Regions from separate parts of the Homo sapiens genome. Here region 1 is linked to region 2. The links come from fine-mapping of genetic effects on gene expression. Tissue or cell type: whole blood. Region 2 holds a variant in brackets; the other region holds the start of a gene. All regions are shown on one strand. Distances are from middle to middle.

Evidence for each region. PIP is the estimated chance that this variant, and not a neighbour inherited with it, causes the effect.
Region 1: it holds the start of CLTB, and the variant in region 2 is fine-mapped to the expression of CLTB in whole blood (TOPMed, PIP above 0.99).

Annotation. Positions count from the first base shown.
Region 1 is chr5:176,412,330-176,420,329 of GRCh38, forward strand. It overlaps CLTB (clathrin light chain B), which reads right to left and starts at 4,210. Exons shown (of 6, transcript NM_007097.5): 1 at 3,848-4,210. The coding sequence starts at 4,034. It also overlaps a transcript of ARL10 not described here. RefSeq lists silencers at 3,713-3,792, 3,903-4,002, 4,043-4,502.
Region 2 is chr5:176,084,920-176,093,267 of GRCh38, forward strand. It overlaps the pseudogene FAM153B. Among named protein-coding and RNA genes, the nearest start is that of THOC3-AS1, 120 kb to the left of the region's middle. The variant G/T (reference allele first, on the strand shown) is at 3,374.

The DNA of each region.
Region 1 (8,000 bases), 330 kb after region 2:
CAGTATCCTGCACCCTCTTGTGCAATTACTCATGACCCCCAGGGTCCGTGTGTACCCCCTTACCAGGCTCCGTGTCCTATTCAGCTCCTCAGGGCTCCAGCACGGAATGGGTGAGCAGTAACTATTGGCTAAATGGAAGTTGAATTGTTGTTTTGAGGCCTGCTGTTATCTGCAAGGCTCTCAGAAACTGCTGTGCCTCCTAGCAAAAAGCCATGGAGGCCACATGAGGTTAATAGGCAGATGGACAAATAGCCCTTCACCAGCCAGACAGGGCTGTGAGCAGCGACAGTGTGTTTGGCCTGGGGACTCAAGGGAAGGGTACTTAATCCCATGGAAATAATCCCCGGGTGACATAAATCATAATTGACTTTGCTTTCAGAGTCAACCAGTGATTGATTCCAACCAACTCTGTCAGCTGTCACTCCCATTCCTTCAGATAAGGCTTCTCCTGCATGGGTGTCCTGGCCCCTAAATCACAGTGGGACCAATAGCATTTCAGTGGCAGCATCTTCTGCAAAGGGGCTTCTTCTGCTGGGGTGTCTCCTCTAGCAGGGCCTCACGTTACCAGGGTCTATTCCCTGTGATGCCGGTCTGTACATTTGGCCTTCTCGAGAATTTGCACCACCCTACTCCGCCCTGACCAACCCCAGTCTCAGACCCCACATCTACACACAGCTGCCTGGGGTCTACCCTGACCTTCAGAAAGTCTCTCTGCCTCAGCCTCGAGAGTGTTCCTCTGGACATGCAGTTTCGGCCTCCTTAAGAGTCCACACACACCTACACAGCATTCCAAGTACCTGTTCCCACAGTGCTCTCCACCCACCCACTGCCCATCTACCACCGGGAGTCCACACTCACAGGCCAGCAGAACAGGACTGAGACAGAGACACGTCCCAGGGATAAACCCCTGAGGGTTTGCTTCCCTCAGCTGCCTGACCCATTTTGGAACAAGGGCAGAGAGGGTCCAGAACATTCCTGTGAGCTTACGAGGCCCAGCGGGGGAAATGGGCTTGCCCAGAACTGACAGGCAAGTCAGAGCCAGGCCTGGTGCTCAGAAAACTGGGTGTGAAAATGGAAACCTACCCAAGGCTGATGAATGGAAACAAAGTGTCCATCATCCAGATCACCCAGGGCCACAGATCCAGCCAGAGAGGAGGGGCTCCCTGTGGCTCCAGCACAGGCCTACACCAGATACCTCTTTCCCCAGGGGCAACTGAGCCCAGTGTCAGCACAGAGATTGCTAATCTGAGGACCCCAACATCTAAGAGAAGGTGCCTCAGAGGTACTGACTGGCGGCCGCTGCTAAGCCAGCTTTTGCCCAGCTCTCAGCAGGCCAGGGCGCTTTTTCTCTGCCCCATCCAGGCTCCTGGCACACATCCCTGGTCAGGGGAAGATTACCTGTTCAGCACTGCATAGGCTGAGAAGGTCAGATCAATTCTAGCCCATCTGGCCATCCACTGAGCCGCCATCCCTCAACACCTCCCTGCTCCCCGATCCAACTAAGGAGGGCAGCTGAGCCTTTGCAGAGTCAGCAGGTATGCGCCTGGGAGACCCTCAGAAGGCTGTATCCCCGGCACCTCCCTGGAAGAAGCGAGCGTGTCATTGTTTCTCTCCCTGTCACCTCTGGTCTGAGGCCAATTTGTGCCCCACCCCTGCCAAGGACAGAACTTGCCATCCAGACTGTAAGTCCCTGGAGCCCCACCATCCTGGGAGAGGCCACAACCTGCTCAGCTCCCTCAGGCATCTGGCTGCCCTCAGCCTGAATCCCATCTTTTCTCTCCTGAGGTTCTCACAATGGCTCCCCTCAGCAGGACCTCCCCACAAGGCCTCCCTCCTCTTCCCTGCACCCCGACCCCAACAGGCCCCAGTGAGCCAGACTGAGGAAAAGGGTGGTCTCACAGAGGTGTGGTCCAGTGAATACTGGTGCATTAACTGGGGCAGGCATTTCTTAGGAATTCCCTGGGACACGGCAGATTCTGTATTGAGGTGCTGGAAGCTTCCACTTCAGAAGCCCTCCATTGCTGTCTCAGATAGGTGGCAAAAGACCCCATGCTTCTCACCCCACATCCTATCTCCTGCCAGGGAGGTGACTGCTATAGAATCTTTTTTTTTTTTTTTTTGAGACAGGGTCTCACTCTGCTGCCCAGGCTGGAGTACAGAGACGTGATCACAGCACACGGCGACCTACCTACACCTCCCGGGCTCAAGCTATGCTCCTGCCTCAGCCTTCCCGAGCAGCTGGAACTACAACTACAGCTACATGCCACCATGCCTGGCTAATTTTTGTATGTTTTGTAGAGATGGGGTTTCACCATGTTGCCCAGGCTCCACAGCATTTGAAAGAGCATGGAGCCCAGAGTTGGGAGGCGTGGGATCAAGTCCTAGATTGGTCATTCCTGGCTGTGTGACTCTGGGCAAGATACTCAGATTCTCTGGGCCACCGGTTTCTTGCATGTTACAAAAGCCTGGTTACATTTCTCATATCAAGGAGATACAGAGTTGCTTCAAACTCCTCAGCCACAGGAACTGTCTTATTCATTTCTGTATCCCCAGCGTCCTGACACACAGTAGGTGCTCAGTAAACGTTGAATGGATACAAACATGACTGTGAAGAGCCTTGTAAACATCATTAACCAAAATATGTCTATATGTATATATGTTAGCACTTACTACAACAGGCCCATAAACCTTTCCAAAATGACATCAACAGGAAGTAAAACCTGTTTTGGATGTACCCATGAAGGTGATATCTACTTTTTTACTAAATATTTTACAAAATCATTCTTGCTAGCCAGAACCAGGGCAGAAACATCATTGATAAAGATGATTTCACAGGGACTAGGCCCTGAACACTGAGGTCTGAAGCCAATCACAGTAAATCATAATAGCCCCGGACCACCTTTGGAAAACCATTAAGTCGACAACTACAAAACCCTGAAGGGCCCTACCGCATCTGACTGATGCCTCTTTGTGGCCCACACTCCGGTGTCTAACTCAGAGCCAGACACTTGGTAGGCAGTGTGGTCAGGTGGAGAGGGCTTCAAGTCCGACAGGAACAGGTTTAAATTCACGGCCAGGTGTGGTGACTCACACCTGTAATCCCAACACTTTAGGAGGCAGAGGTGGGAGGATTGCTTGAGCCCAGGAGCTCAAGACCAGTCTGGGCAACATAGCGAGACCCCATCTCAAAAAAAGGAAAAGAAAAAATATATATGTAAAAGAAAAAGAAACAGGTTTAAATTCTTGATCTGCCACTTACTAGTTATTTCAATAGCATACTCCCTTGAGCCTCAGTTTTACCATCTCTGAAATGGGTTCAATCACGTGTATGAAGTGATTAAATGTAACCAAGGCGCTTAGCCCAGCGACTGCCGAATGCCAGGCGGTCACCGGGGAAGGTTAGTGAGTTCCTGGAGCACCCAGGATCCTCTTTTTTCCCAGCTGCAGGAGAGAGCTAAGCCTGAGGGGCCAGGAGGGCTGTGTTCTGCCCACACCTGCACACTTAGCTGGGAGCCTGGGACACCCAGGCTATTAGGAGGCTCAGGAGGGACTCTCAAAACTGAGGTGGGGTTGGATTCCAGAGCCGGGCAGTGGGGAAGCTGGCCTGGGGATGAAATGTCATGACCGAATTCCTGTCCCGGGAGTCACCAGATCCACAGCCCCAGGCGAGGCCTCATCCCCAGCTCGGAAGTCCTACATGGAGATCTCCAAGAAGATTCTTCCCCACGTCTCCCAGCTCCTGCCCCGGGTGGCCTAGAGCAGGCTCTCTTCCCTGTGCCCCTGGGCCCCGGCCGGGGTCCCCCGGGTGCGCGCCCTGAGCCCCTCTCCAGGCCCCGCGCTGACTCACCCCCACTCGTGGGGCCCGGCTGCGCGGGGGCCGCATGGCTGCCGGCAGGTGCCCCGAAGCCCTCGTCGTTCTCTATGCCTGCAATCTCGCTCTCCTGCTGGGCCAGGAAGGCGGCCGCCGGGTCCTCCTCCGCCGCCTCCGGGGCACCGCTCTCCGACGACGAGAAGAAGCCAAAGTCATCAGCCATTTTCCCCGCGCCTCCGCCGGAGCCTCCGCTGCGCTCGGCTCTGCCCGCGCCTGCCCCGCGCTGCGTCCGGCGGCCGCGACGCTGTCACCCGAGCCGCGGGGGAGCCGGCGTCGGCGGGGACGGGCTTGGCGCGGACCGCACTTCCTCTCCGCCACCGGGCCCGGCTGGCTGTCACTGCGGTGCGGGCGCCGCGGCGGGAGGAGCGGAGCCGGAATGCGGTGACGTCACCGCGGGGGCGGGGCCGCAGGGCCGGGAGGTCGCCGAGCAGCGGCCGCAGGAGGGCGCCTCAGGACTGGGCGCAGCGCTGGGCCCGGGACCGGCGCGGCGCTTCCCTCCCTCCGCAGCGGCGCCCAGCTGCTCGCGTCGAGGACACCTGGGCTAGGCACTGCTCCCGCCCGGCCTGGAGGCGAAACGCAGGGCACAGAGTGGCCGTACCGTGCACAGAGCTGCGACAGGAGGCCACCTCTGGCCTCGGGAGCGCAGACCTGGCTCCTGATTCATTCTGCAGAAGTTTCTTCTCCTAGGTTGGGATGTCATGCACCTCATTCTATGAGCCTCCGCCTCTGTAAGAAGAGGAAAATTGAGGCTGGGAAAGGCTGCCCCGCACCTTTTCATGCAAGTCCAGGTCCTTTCCCACTAGGCCGTGTTGTTTTGTGTATTTTTTTGTGTATCTCCCTTGAGGAGGCTTCAGTTCATACGACCAGAGTTTGGATGGCCAGCTAGGCCCCTTAAATGTCCTTTAGGTATGAACCAGCCTGAGAAAGGCAGACCTGGTTTACCCAGGCAGCCTACCACTCTCCACGCTGCCCGCTGCCCTCTGTGAACAGGCTCTGAATGCCTCCTCCCTGCCTGCGCTTTGCCAAGCACCAGGACAGCAACGTTTTATAAAATCCAGCCATGGCCATGCGGAGATTACAATCCGGTGAGACCAACAGATGGCAAATGGCCTGTCAAAGCACTGTGTGTGAGGCGCTGTGACATTTAAACACGGGGTATAGGGAGACGATGCAAAGAAACACCATGGGATTTGGGCTGTCTGCTATTTCTAATGTGGGACTTGAAAGGCAACTATGAAATATGGACTGGAAGAGCGAAAGGAAAGATGTGCCGCCAAGTTGGGGGTGGAAGTGGAGTTGGGGTGAAGGGACCTTCCAGGTGTTTTTTTTTTTTTCTTTTTAATTTTTTTATTTAGAGACAGGGCCTCGCTATATTAACTGGGCTGGTCTTGAACTGCTGGCCTCAGGGGATCCTCCTGCCTTGGTCTCCCAAAACACTGGGATTACATGTGTGAGCTACCAAGCCCAGCTGGAACTTTCAGTTTAATTGGTAACAACTTGAGCACCTTTTGATGTTACTGTTTTTGGGGGGGTTTTTATTGTTTTATTTAATTAAATTAATGTATTTATTTATTGCTGTCCATTTGCATGGTTTTGTTGTTGTTGTTTGTTTGTTTTTTGTTTTGAGACAGGATCTTACTCTTGCCCAGGCTAGAGTGTAGTGGTACGATTATAGTTCACTACAGCTTCAACTCCTGGGCTCAAGTGATCCTCTCATCCTCAGACTTCCAAAGAGCTGGGATTACAGGCATGAGCCAACACACCTGGCCTTTTTGATGTTATTGTAAGTGGAAGTTTTATCTTCTTTTTTGATTGCGTATTGTTAATGCATAGAAATTTAACTGATTTTTGTGCATTGGCTTTGTATCCTGCTGCTTTGCTGAATTCATTTATTAGCTCTAACATTTTTTGTGTGTGGAATATTTAGGGTTTTCTGCAGATAAGAGCTTATTAGCCAGGTGCCATGGCTCATACCTGTAATCCCAGCACTTTGGGAGGTGGAAGTGGGTGGATAGATTGAGCCCAGGAGTTTGAGACCAGTCTGGACAACGTGGCAAAACCCCATCACTACTAAAACTACAAAAAATTAGCCAGACATGGTGGTATGGTGCCCGTAGTCCCAGTTACTCAGGAGGCCGAGGTGAGGGAATCACCTGAGCCCGGGAAGTCAAGGTTGCAGTGAGCTATGATTGTGTCAGAGGTGTGTGAATCAGAGCAAGTCCGTCGTAAACAGGATCTGGGTAAAATGAGGCTGAAACCTACTGGGCTGCATTCCCAGACGGTTAGGGCATTCTAAATCACAGGATGAGATAGGAGGTCAGCACAAAATACAAGTCATAAAGACCTTGCTGATAACACAGTTTGCAGTGTTGGGCAAGGTGGCCCACGCCTGTAATCCCAGCACTTTGGGAGGCCAAGGTGGGCGGATTGTGAGGTCAGGAGTTTGCGACCAGCCTGGTCAATATAGTGAAACCCCGTCTCTACTAAAAATACAAAAAATTAGCTGGGCATGGTGGCAGGTGCCTGTAATCCCAGCTACTTGGGAGGCTGAGGCAGGAGAATTGCTTGAACCCGGGAGGCGGAGGTTACAGTGAGCCGAGATCTCACCACTGCACTCCAGCCTGGGTGACAGTGCAAGACTCAGTCTCAAAAAACAAACAAACCAACAAACAACAACAACAAAAACCAGGTTGCAGTAAAGGAGCCAGCCAAAACCCACCAAAACCAAAATGGTGACAAGAGTGACCTCTGGTCATCCTCACTCCCACCAGTGCCAGGACAGTTTACAAATGCCATGGCAACATCAGGAAGTTACCCTATACGGTCTAAAAAGGGAAGGCACGAATAATCCACCCCTTGTTTAGCATTTCATCAAGAAATGGCCATGAAAATATGCAACCAGCAGTCCTTGGGGCTGCTCTGTCTATGGAGTAGCCATTCTTCTATTCCTTTACTTTCTTTTTCTTTTTTTGAGGTGGAGTCTCGCTCTGTTGCCCAGGCTGGAGTGCAGTGGTGCGATCTCGGCTCACTGCAAGCTCCACCTCCCGGGTTCACGCCATTCTCCTGCCTCAGCCTCCCAAGTAGCTGGGACTACAGGAGCCTGCCACCATGCTCAGCTAATTTTTTTTTTTTTTGTATTTTTAGTAGAGACGGGGTTTCACCCTGTTAGCCAGGATGGTCTCGATCTCTTGACTTCATGATCTGTCCACCTCGGCCTGCCAAAGTGCTGGGATTACAGGCGTGAGCCACCGTGCCCGGCCCCTCCTTTACTTTCTTAATAAACTTGTTTTCGCTTTGCACCAAGGACTCACCCTGAATTCTTTCTTGCGTGAGATCCAAGAACCCTCTCTTGGGGTCTGGATTGGGACCCCTGTCCTATAACAATCACACCACTGCGCTCCAGCCTGGGCAATGAGAGTGAGACCCTGTCTCTAAATAAATAAATAGCATCTGCAAACAGAGATACTTCTTACTTTCCAATCTGGGTTGCTTTTATTTCTTTTTCTTGCCTAATTTCTCTGGCTAGGACTTCCAGTACTATGTTGAATAGAAATACCAAAAGTGGGCATCCTTCTGCACAAGTTGTCCAAATCAAACTGGAGTCACTTATGCCAAACCCTAGCAAAATGGACTCAGGAGGCCATAAATGAGGGGCTCCCATGCACACATGCCTATGATAGAAAATATTACAAGGACTGTCTGAGGCTGGGCACGGTGGCTCATGCCTGTAATCCCAACACTTTGGGATGCTGAGATGGGCGGATCACCTGAGGTCTGGAGTTCAAGACCAACCTAACATGATGAAACCCCGTCTCTACTAAAAATACAAAATTAGCTGGGTGTGGTGGCACACACCTGTAATCCCAGCTACTCAGGAGGCTAAGGCAGAAGAATTGCTTGAACCTGGGAGGCAGAGGTTGCAGTGAGCCGAGATTGCCCCATTGTACTCCAGCCTGGGCAACAAGAGCAAAACTCCGTCTCAAGAAAAAAAAAAAAACCCAACAACAACAACAACAAAAAACAAGGATTGTCTGAAACCACAATCTTGCACAAAGGCCGTCACACCCATGCACGAAGAATATTTCTGCAATGACACCTGCCCAGCAATTGCCTGTTCAATCTTGGAATA
Region 2 (8,348 bases):
ACGTTGGCAGTAAACGCAGCTTAGTTGTCTCAGAGGACTCACAATGGGATGTGCTTATAGTTGTTGCCTCGAAGGTATGTATGTTCATTTCCATCTTCTGACTGCAATTTCTTCAGATAAGCCAGTTTTCCTGTACGTTAAATGTCATTCTGATTTTTTTTTATTTCCCCAGCTCCTATTTGTCTACAGATTTATAAATATGTTTCAGAGTTTTATTACTCAATTTGTGTTTTTTTATTCTTCTATCAAGATTTTTGCCTCAAATACTTTTCTCTAGAAAATACACTGCTTCCAATGCCAATTTTTTTTTTTTTTTTTTTTTTTTTGGAAGAGTCTTGCTCTGTTGCCTAGGCTAGAATGCAGTGGTGTGATAATGGCTCACAGCAACCTCCACCTCCCAGGTTTAAGCAATTCTCCTGCCTCAGCCTCCTGAGTAGCTGGGATTACAGGCATCCGCCACCACGCCTGGCTAATTTTCGTATGTTTAGTAGAGACAGGGTTTTACAATGTTGGCAAGGGAGGTCTTGAACTTCTGACCTCCTGATCCACCTTCCTTGGCCTCCCAAAGTGATGGGATTATAGGCATGAGCCACAGAGCCTGGACTTTTCTTTTCTTTTTTTTTTTTGGCAGAGTCTCATTCTGTCACCCAGGCTGGAGTGCAGTGGCACAATCTCAGCTCTTTGCAACCTCTGCATCCCAGGTTCAAGCGATTCTCCTGCCTCAGCCTCCCAAGTAGCTGGGACTACGGGTGCCTGCCACCATGCCTGGCTAATTTTTGTATTTTTAGTAGAGACAGGGTTTCACCATATTGACCAGGCTGGTCTTGAACTCCTGACCTTGTGATCTGCCCACCTTGGCCTCCCAAAGTGCTGGGATACAGGTGTGAGCCACCACACCCGGCCTCCCCCGCCACACACACTCTTTCATAGACTAGATACAGAATAAACTGCTGAAAAATCCACTGGGGGGCCACATTTTCAGTTAATTCCCATTAATTGCTTCTTCAGAATGGTTCAGTTGAAGGGAAGTTTATTCTTGGCACAGCCATCAAGTGGTAGTTAGTTTGGAAGGTCCTAAGTTCCGAACTACCTTGGGGGCCAAGCAGAACTTGGTCCCTTGCTGTGGTCAGTTGGTCATGGAGGGGTGCTCACTGCCAGACAGCTGACAATACAGGGCAATGGGTAGGATGACCAGACATTTGAATTTGTTCCTCAGAGAGGCTTCGTTTGCAGGAAAGTGCCATATTTTAGCCCAGGAGTTAAAACCTAGAGACAGGAGTTTTGTTTTGTTAAATGATTTGGCTTTTTTCTGGACTCACCACCTCTTCCAAATACATCAACCTTCCTGAAGAGCCCTTGGTGCAGGAGGATTGAGAAAGGGAGTGGAAAGAGCTCCAGGTTCAGGGTCCAGGCCATGATTTAGAGGCCTCAGGTATTCAGGGATCTCTGTCCCCAGAAAACCAGCCAAATTCTTGTCCCAGATCTATCATTCGTCAGTGTTGTGACCCTAGGCAGGTCGCTTCAAATCTCTTCATTTCACTTCCCTGAACCGTCACCTCTGAGTGGCAGCCCCTGCTCTGCCCATCTCTCTGGGCCTATGTGGGCATCACAGGAAATTCAAACAAAAACTTTTCACGAGTTCTAAAGCATGAGACCCATGTCAAGAATGAAAAGAATTTTAGCCTCCACTGCCCTGGAGTCCCCCAAGTGGCTTCTCTATTAACCACTACCAAGGGCCTGGCTTATTCTTCCAGACATGAAATAATTGAACACTTTATGGCACTTAGGAAGCACCCGTTTTAAGGCTTTAGGTCCATTTAACTATTCTTACCCTTTTAACATAACGTAGGCCATTAGGAGGCACAGAGGGATCTATAGAACTTCCTCAGGTTCTAGCAGCTTCTCAGAAGTCCCTGAGCTCAGATCCTATGCTCCGGACCCTATGCTCTTGGTCACTCCAATCTACTACCTTTCTGTAATGTCTCATCTCAATACAGGCATTTGCCTGCACACTTATACGTGCAACCCACAGTGCAAGTCTTTCTGAAGCCCAACTCAGATTCAGGGGGCTTTGCTCTGCAGATGATGAACAATGGAATCAAACATTTAAGCTGTGAATAAATAATTACTCATTTCTCTGATCTTTTGCGGCAAGACACCAACACCTGTCTTTATTTTAATTCATTTCCCAGTGTGTTGTGGCGAGGATGAAATAGTGTATCCTAGGATGCCAGGGGAATCCACCGTCTGCCACCGCGAGCGTGAGAAGCCAATCACCTATCACTGGTATCACTGGCATCCCGGCCATATATACCCTAGAGTTGCATCAATGGAAGGTGTTGTGGAAATTCAGTCATTCAGTTCATTCATGATATGATTTCTAGATTCTTCAGTGTCTCATATTTCAGACAATTATAAAATTGCGATGCTATATTCTTTATTTCATGTGTGCATATTTAAATGTGTTAAGTCAATCACTAGTGCTACAACCAGAGGAGTAAAGGTGTATTTCCATTCCAGATTTGGGTTTACTTTTAATAGTAAATAACATCTCAGTGCAAATTGTAGACATTTTGCTGATTGTTAAAACATTAATTAAAAAGGATCTTTTTCTGAGACAGTGTTGCCAGGTTTGTAAAGTAATGGACATCACTTCAAACTGTTTGGAAGTAACCGAAAAATGGAGGAAGTGGCAACAAAACTTTCCATATACCCACCTTCCTCAGTATTTTTTGGTGATCCCATCTTTGTGAGTGTGATAACGCTCGTAACAATGACTGAGCCAATAGTGATACATTCTTATGAACAGAAGTCCAAGGTTAGCATCAGTGACTGAGCCAATAGTGATACATTCTTATGAACAGAAATCTAGGGTTAGCATCAAGGTTCACTCTGTGTTGTCCAGCCTATGGGTTTTGACAAACTGACAATGTCTTTTGTCACCCTGACGGAATAATTTCACATCCTACACATGACCTGAGCTGCATCTACTAATTCCTCTCCTTTTCTGAGGATTCCTGACAACTATGGATGATTTTACTGCCTCTATAGGTTTCCTTTTCCAGAATTGTATAGAGTTGGAATCATAGAGTATGTAGCTACGTATAACTAACTTATTTTACTTAGCAATATACATGTAAGATCTTTTGTATCGTTTTGAAGCTTAACAGCTTAATAATTCTTATCAGTGAACAATAGTCCATTGGTTTCATCGAACAGGGTTAGTTGGTTCACTCACTGCCTGAAGACCATCTGAGCTGCTTCCAATTTGGGTAATTATGAATAAAGCTGCCCACATTCTTGTGCAGATTTTAAGATGAACATAATTTTCTAATTTAGCTGGGTAAATATGTAGAATTTTGATCACTTGCTG[G/T]TAAGACTATGTTTTCCATTGTGTTAGGCAGAATTCACCAGTACAATTATGTGGGCATTTTTTTTTAAGTTATTACTTCCTGATTAAATTCTATAATGATAGAGGCCTACTCAGATTATCTATCTCTCCTTTGGGTGGTTATGGTAGTTTCTCCCTTTGAAGGCATTTGTCCATTTCATCTAAGCTAGGAAATTTGTGGGTGTAGACACTTGAATCTGACAAGTTGCCTGCTTGGTTCTCATCAAAGGCTACTGTGCTTCCTGTCATTCCTACTCTCAAACTTTTCAATAGACTTTCACTCCTGCACTTAAAAAATTGCAGGCATAGATTTGTTGAAAGTATTCTGTTATTATTTTCTTAATGATTATGGGATCAGCAAGGATAATTCCTCTTCTATTCATATTGTTTGTACATCGTGTCTTCTGTATTTTCTTTGTGATTAGCCTTGCTGGAGGTTTACCAATTCTATTGATCTTTTCTAAGAAGCAGCTTTTGGTTTTGTTGAGTTTCTTTATTTTATTATTTCTATTACATTGATTTCTGCAAATATTGTTATATTTTGGGGGAGGAGTGTTGCCTGGTTTACATTACACTACACTTTTTTCTCTAGTTTCCTAAGGTGGAAAGTAAGACATCTGGATTTGGATTACATTTAGTTTACTGCACAGAATTGTGAATGGCACTGATGCCCCTGAAGTGTGCACTTGATTATTAAAATAATAAATATGATGTATTTTGGCCACAATACTGATTTTAAAGCCAATTAAATGGATGATAAGTACAGGAGGAGCATATGTAGATCAAGGAAAGATAAATGACATTATAACATTTCAACAACAAAAGAAATTTACCGGGCCTCAAAATGCACAAGGGGGTGATGGGACACTGTCATGAAATCAGCAGTGCATTTGTGTGCCACCCTGTGTGAACTCTGCCTTTTTTGCAGTGGTGTGGGGGCTTAGCCAGAGAACCAGGTCCTGACTTCTGTGGCTTCCTGATGGTCTCATTTGCCTTCCCTCATCACCCAGGAGGGTGTCCCAGTGGCAGCCAAGTTTCTACCCTTAACCCACCTCCTTTACACATGCCAGCCCCCTGTCCTTAGCATCCAAGGTTGCCTAAGGGATTCCTTCAGTGGAACCAACATGATGACAGTTACTCTGTGTTTCCTAGATTACGATGAGGACCTGGTGCAGGAAGCTTCATCTGAAGATGTCCTGGGCGTTCATATGGTAAGTTCTTCTTTATGTTTCTGAGATGGAAATTTTGTTGCTCTTGGTTCTTTTTTATTTTATTTGAATTGAGATATGAAAATCTTACCATGTACATTATAGATGACTTACAGAATATTTTGGTGGGAAAATGTGAGGGTCATTACCAGGTAAGAAATGATCTCAGATGGCATTCTTAGATGACACCTTCAGTTATGAACTGTATGGCAGAAAGAATTTTTGTTAGGGGAAAAGCTTTCTTCTTACAACATTGTGACTATACAACCAAAACAATCTTGAAAGTCTTGCATAAAAATCTTGTGCCTTTCCAGAAGTGTCTTCGAGGCTTTAGGACCATTGCCTCAACCACTGTCTCCCATCTGCTTTTCTAATGTCACCAAGTAAAGAAAAGACTTGTATGGTGAAACCCCATCTCTACTAAAAATACAAAAATTAGCTGGGCATGCTGACCGGCTACTGTAATCTCAGCTACTGGGGAGGCTAAGGGAGCAGGATCGCTTGAGGCCAGGAGGCGGATGTTGCAGTGAGCCATGATCATAACACTGTACTCCAGCCTGGGTGACAGAGCGAAATTCCAGCAAAGAAAGGGAGAGAGGAAGGGAGAGAGGGAGTAGGGGAGAGAGAGAGAGAGAGAGAGAGAGGCAGGAAGGAAGGAAGAAGGGAAGGGAAGAAGGAAGAGAAAGAAGGAAGGGAAAGAAAGAAGGAAGGAAAGAGAAAAAGAGAAAGAAAGAAAAAGAAAGAAAAGAAAGGAAAGAAAGAAGGAAGGGAGGGAGGGAAAAGGAAAACCTGTGCACACAGGACACAGCATGGTCTGACCCTTGTAGTGTTTTGTTTTTCTCTAAATGCAGGTGGACAAAGACACAGAGAGAGACAGTACGTATTCTGGAATCACCCCTATGCTGAGGAAAAATTCTAGTGTTGACAAAGGTGACACTTTCTTGCCTCATTTTTTCTGGAGAGCCACTCTGGTTTGAACTTCCTGCCAGAAATGTGGTTCAAGCACTTTTGTCTTGACAAGTGAAGAACCTGGTCAAGAAATGTGACCGTTGACTCTGGTGCTTGGAAGGAACAGGGTCATTTGGATAGAAGAGGGTGTTGTGAATCAGAGTTGGGAGGTATGGAGGAATGAGTCAATGTGGAATGATTGTGAATGTCTCTGCGAGTTTGTGTGCTTTTCCCCAGAAAATACGTTCCCATATGCAAAGCACAACACAAAGATTGATATTCTAGAAACAAAATTTGATCACCACTGCATTTTTGCAAAAAATCAACCCATTCATTCCTCACCACAGCTGTAGCTGAAGGTAAGTTTAATATCCCAAGTCCTCACATGGAGATGATGTAGAGATGAATTTTTCAGGCTTTTGGTCTCCTAAATGGAAATGGCATAGATGAACTCGGGAATGGGTGGAAGGGTGATGCTGTGGGCTACTAGTCTGAAGTTATAACATGGCCCTGGTGTAACTTGTCACCATGTCAGAGAGTCCTTAGCATCTATGTGTATGTGGAAGTATGTTGGCCTATAAAGATCTCCAGCACTGTATACCACAATAGAATGGTCTCAATGGTCAGCTGACCCAGAGTTTGAGTAGGTTCATTGTACAGTGAACTTGGGTGCGGTCATTAATATGAAACATACAGAGGGAGCTGCCAGGCCTTTGGTCTTAAGTGATGGGGTATTCCTCAGTTCCTGGTCAAGGGCAGAGAACATTCAGAGATATATTCTATTATATTTAATGAGATCATCACCACAAACGTTAGAAATGCTCCAATTCAGTAGCACACATACCCAAGACACAGCACCCAACAAGATCTCACAGAGCCAATTGGCTGTTAGCCTGGTGCCCATCTTGTCTGCTGGAATCTCTGCACAGCTGGGTAACAGAGGGTCAGCGCTCCCACCTGCTGTCACCCATGAAGGGCTGTCCCATTCCTGGAGCCAGTGTGAGTATGAGCAACAGCGGGCCCCATGACACACACACACAGTGTTAAAAGAAAGAGCAGAAGGACAAATATCACAGGCTAAGTAGAGGTCATCTTTAAATGGTAGGATAATTGAGTATTTTCAAATCTTGGTTTAGTCTTCTTTGAAACAAAGGTTAGTGAATATGTAGAATATTTTGGCTAGAATTATATCACCTCTTTGAAGAAAGGTTGCTTTTTACCTCGTACAAAATGTTCTGGCTGGAGACGGTGGCTCATGCCTGTAATCCCAGTGCTTTGGGAGGCCAAGGAGGGTGGATTACCTAAGGTCAGGAGTTCAAGACCAGCCTGATCAACATGGAGAAACCCCATCTCTACTAAAAATACAAAATTAGCTGGGCATGGGAGCACATGTCTCTAATACCAGCTACTCAGGAAGCACATGTCTTTAATACCAGCTACTCAGGGAGCACATGTCTGTAATACCAGCTACTCAGCTACCCATTCATCGTCCACCACAGCTGTACCTGAAGATAAGTTTAATATCCCCAGTCCTCAGATGGACATGCTGCAGAGTTGAATTTCCCAAGCTCTTGGTCTTTTAAATGGAAGAGACACATGTGAACTCGGGAATGAGTGGAAGGTTAATGCCATGGGCTACTACACTGAATTTGTCACAAAGCCCTGGTATAATTTCTTGCTAGGCCAAGTTATTCCAGCACTTCTGTGTGCTGGAAGAATGAAAACCTATTCAGATCCCAAACACTATCATTATCGGATGGTCTCAATGGTCAGCTAACCCAGGGTTTGTTTGAGTAGGTACATTGCACTGTGGGCTTTAGTGTGATCATTAATGTAAAACACACAGAGTCCTCAGGCTTTTGGTCTACAGCGTTGAGGTCATTCCTCAGCTCCTGTTCAAAAGCAGACAATAATCAGTGACATACTCTATTGTATTTAAGGAGATAATCACCACAAGTCTTAGAAATTCAGTGGAAACCAATCCCAACACATAGCATCCAATAAAATCTCAAGACTCAACTTGGGTGTTAGCCTGGCACCCATTTTCCCTGATGGAATCTCTGCACAGCTGGGTTGGAGAGGGTCAGTGCCCACCCCTTGCCCCGCCTCGCTGCTCCCCATGACAGACTGTCTCTGTGCTGGAGTCAGTGTGAGCATGAGCAGCAGTGAACTCCATGGTGCACACACATGGTGTTGAAAAGGAAGAGCGGAAGAACAAATATCACATGCTAAGTAGGGGTCATCGTTAAATGGTAGGATAATAGAGTATTTTCAAATCTCTGTTTATTTGCCTTGTAACAGAAAGTTAGTAATAAAATCTTTTGGCTAGAATTAAATCTCCTATTTTAAGAAAGGTTACTTCTTGTTTAGTACAAAATCTTCTAGAAGGGATGATAAACAGATCAGCAGCACATGTGGATTCTGAGGAGGAAATGACTTTGGCAGGGATCAATAAGAGGGCAAGTTAGCTCAGGTCAGATTAGGAAGGAGGAGCCCTAAGAGGCTGCCAGGGACACACAGCCTGCACTGCTGGTGTGCACTGTTTGAGATTGGCTATTATATGTTTATGAGGCGGCCTGGAGCTAGGAAGCCAAAGGCCCTGATTCCCTTTCTTCCTGCATCTCTCCTGTGCCTGCTACCCTCCTCCCAAGCCCACCTCAAGCAGTGTTACTGAATTGTTCATGAGCGCCACCACCAAGGTGCTGACGGTCACTCTGTATCCTCCTAGTTGAGATGAAACGGCAACTACGGCGACTACGGGAGCTCCACCTATACAGCACATGGAAGAAGTACCAAGAGGC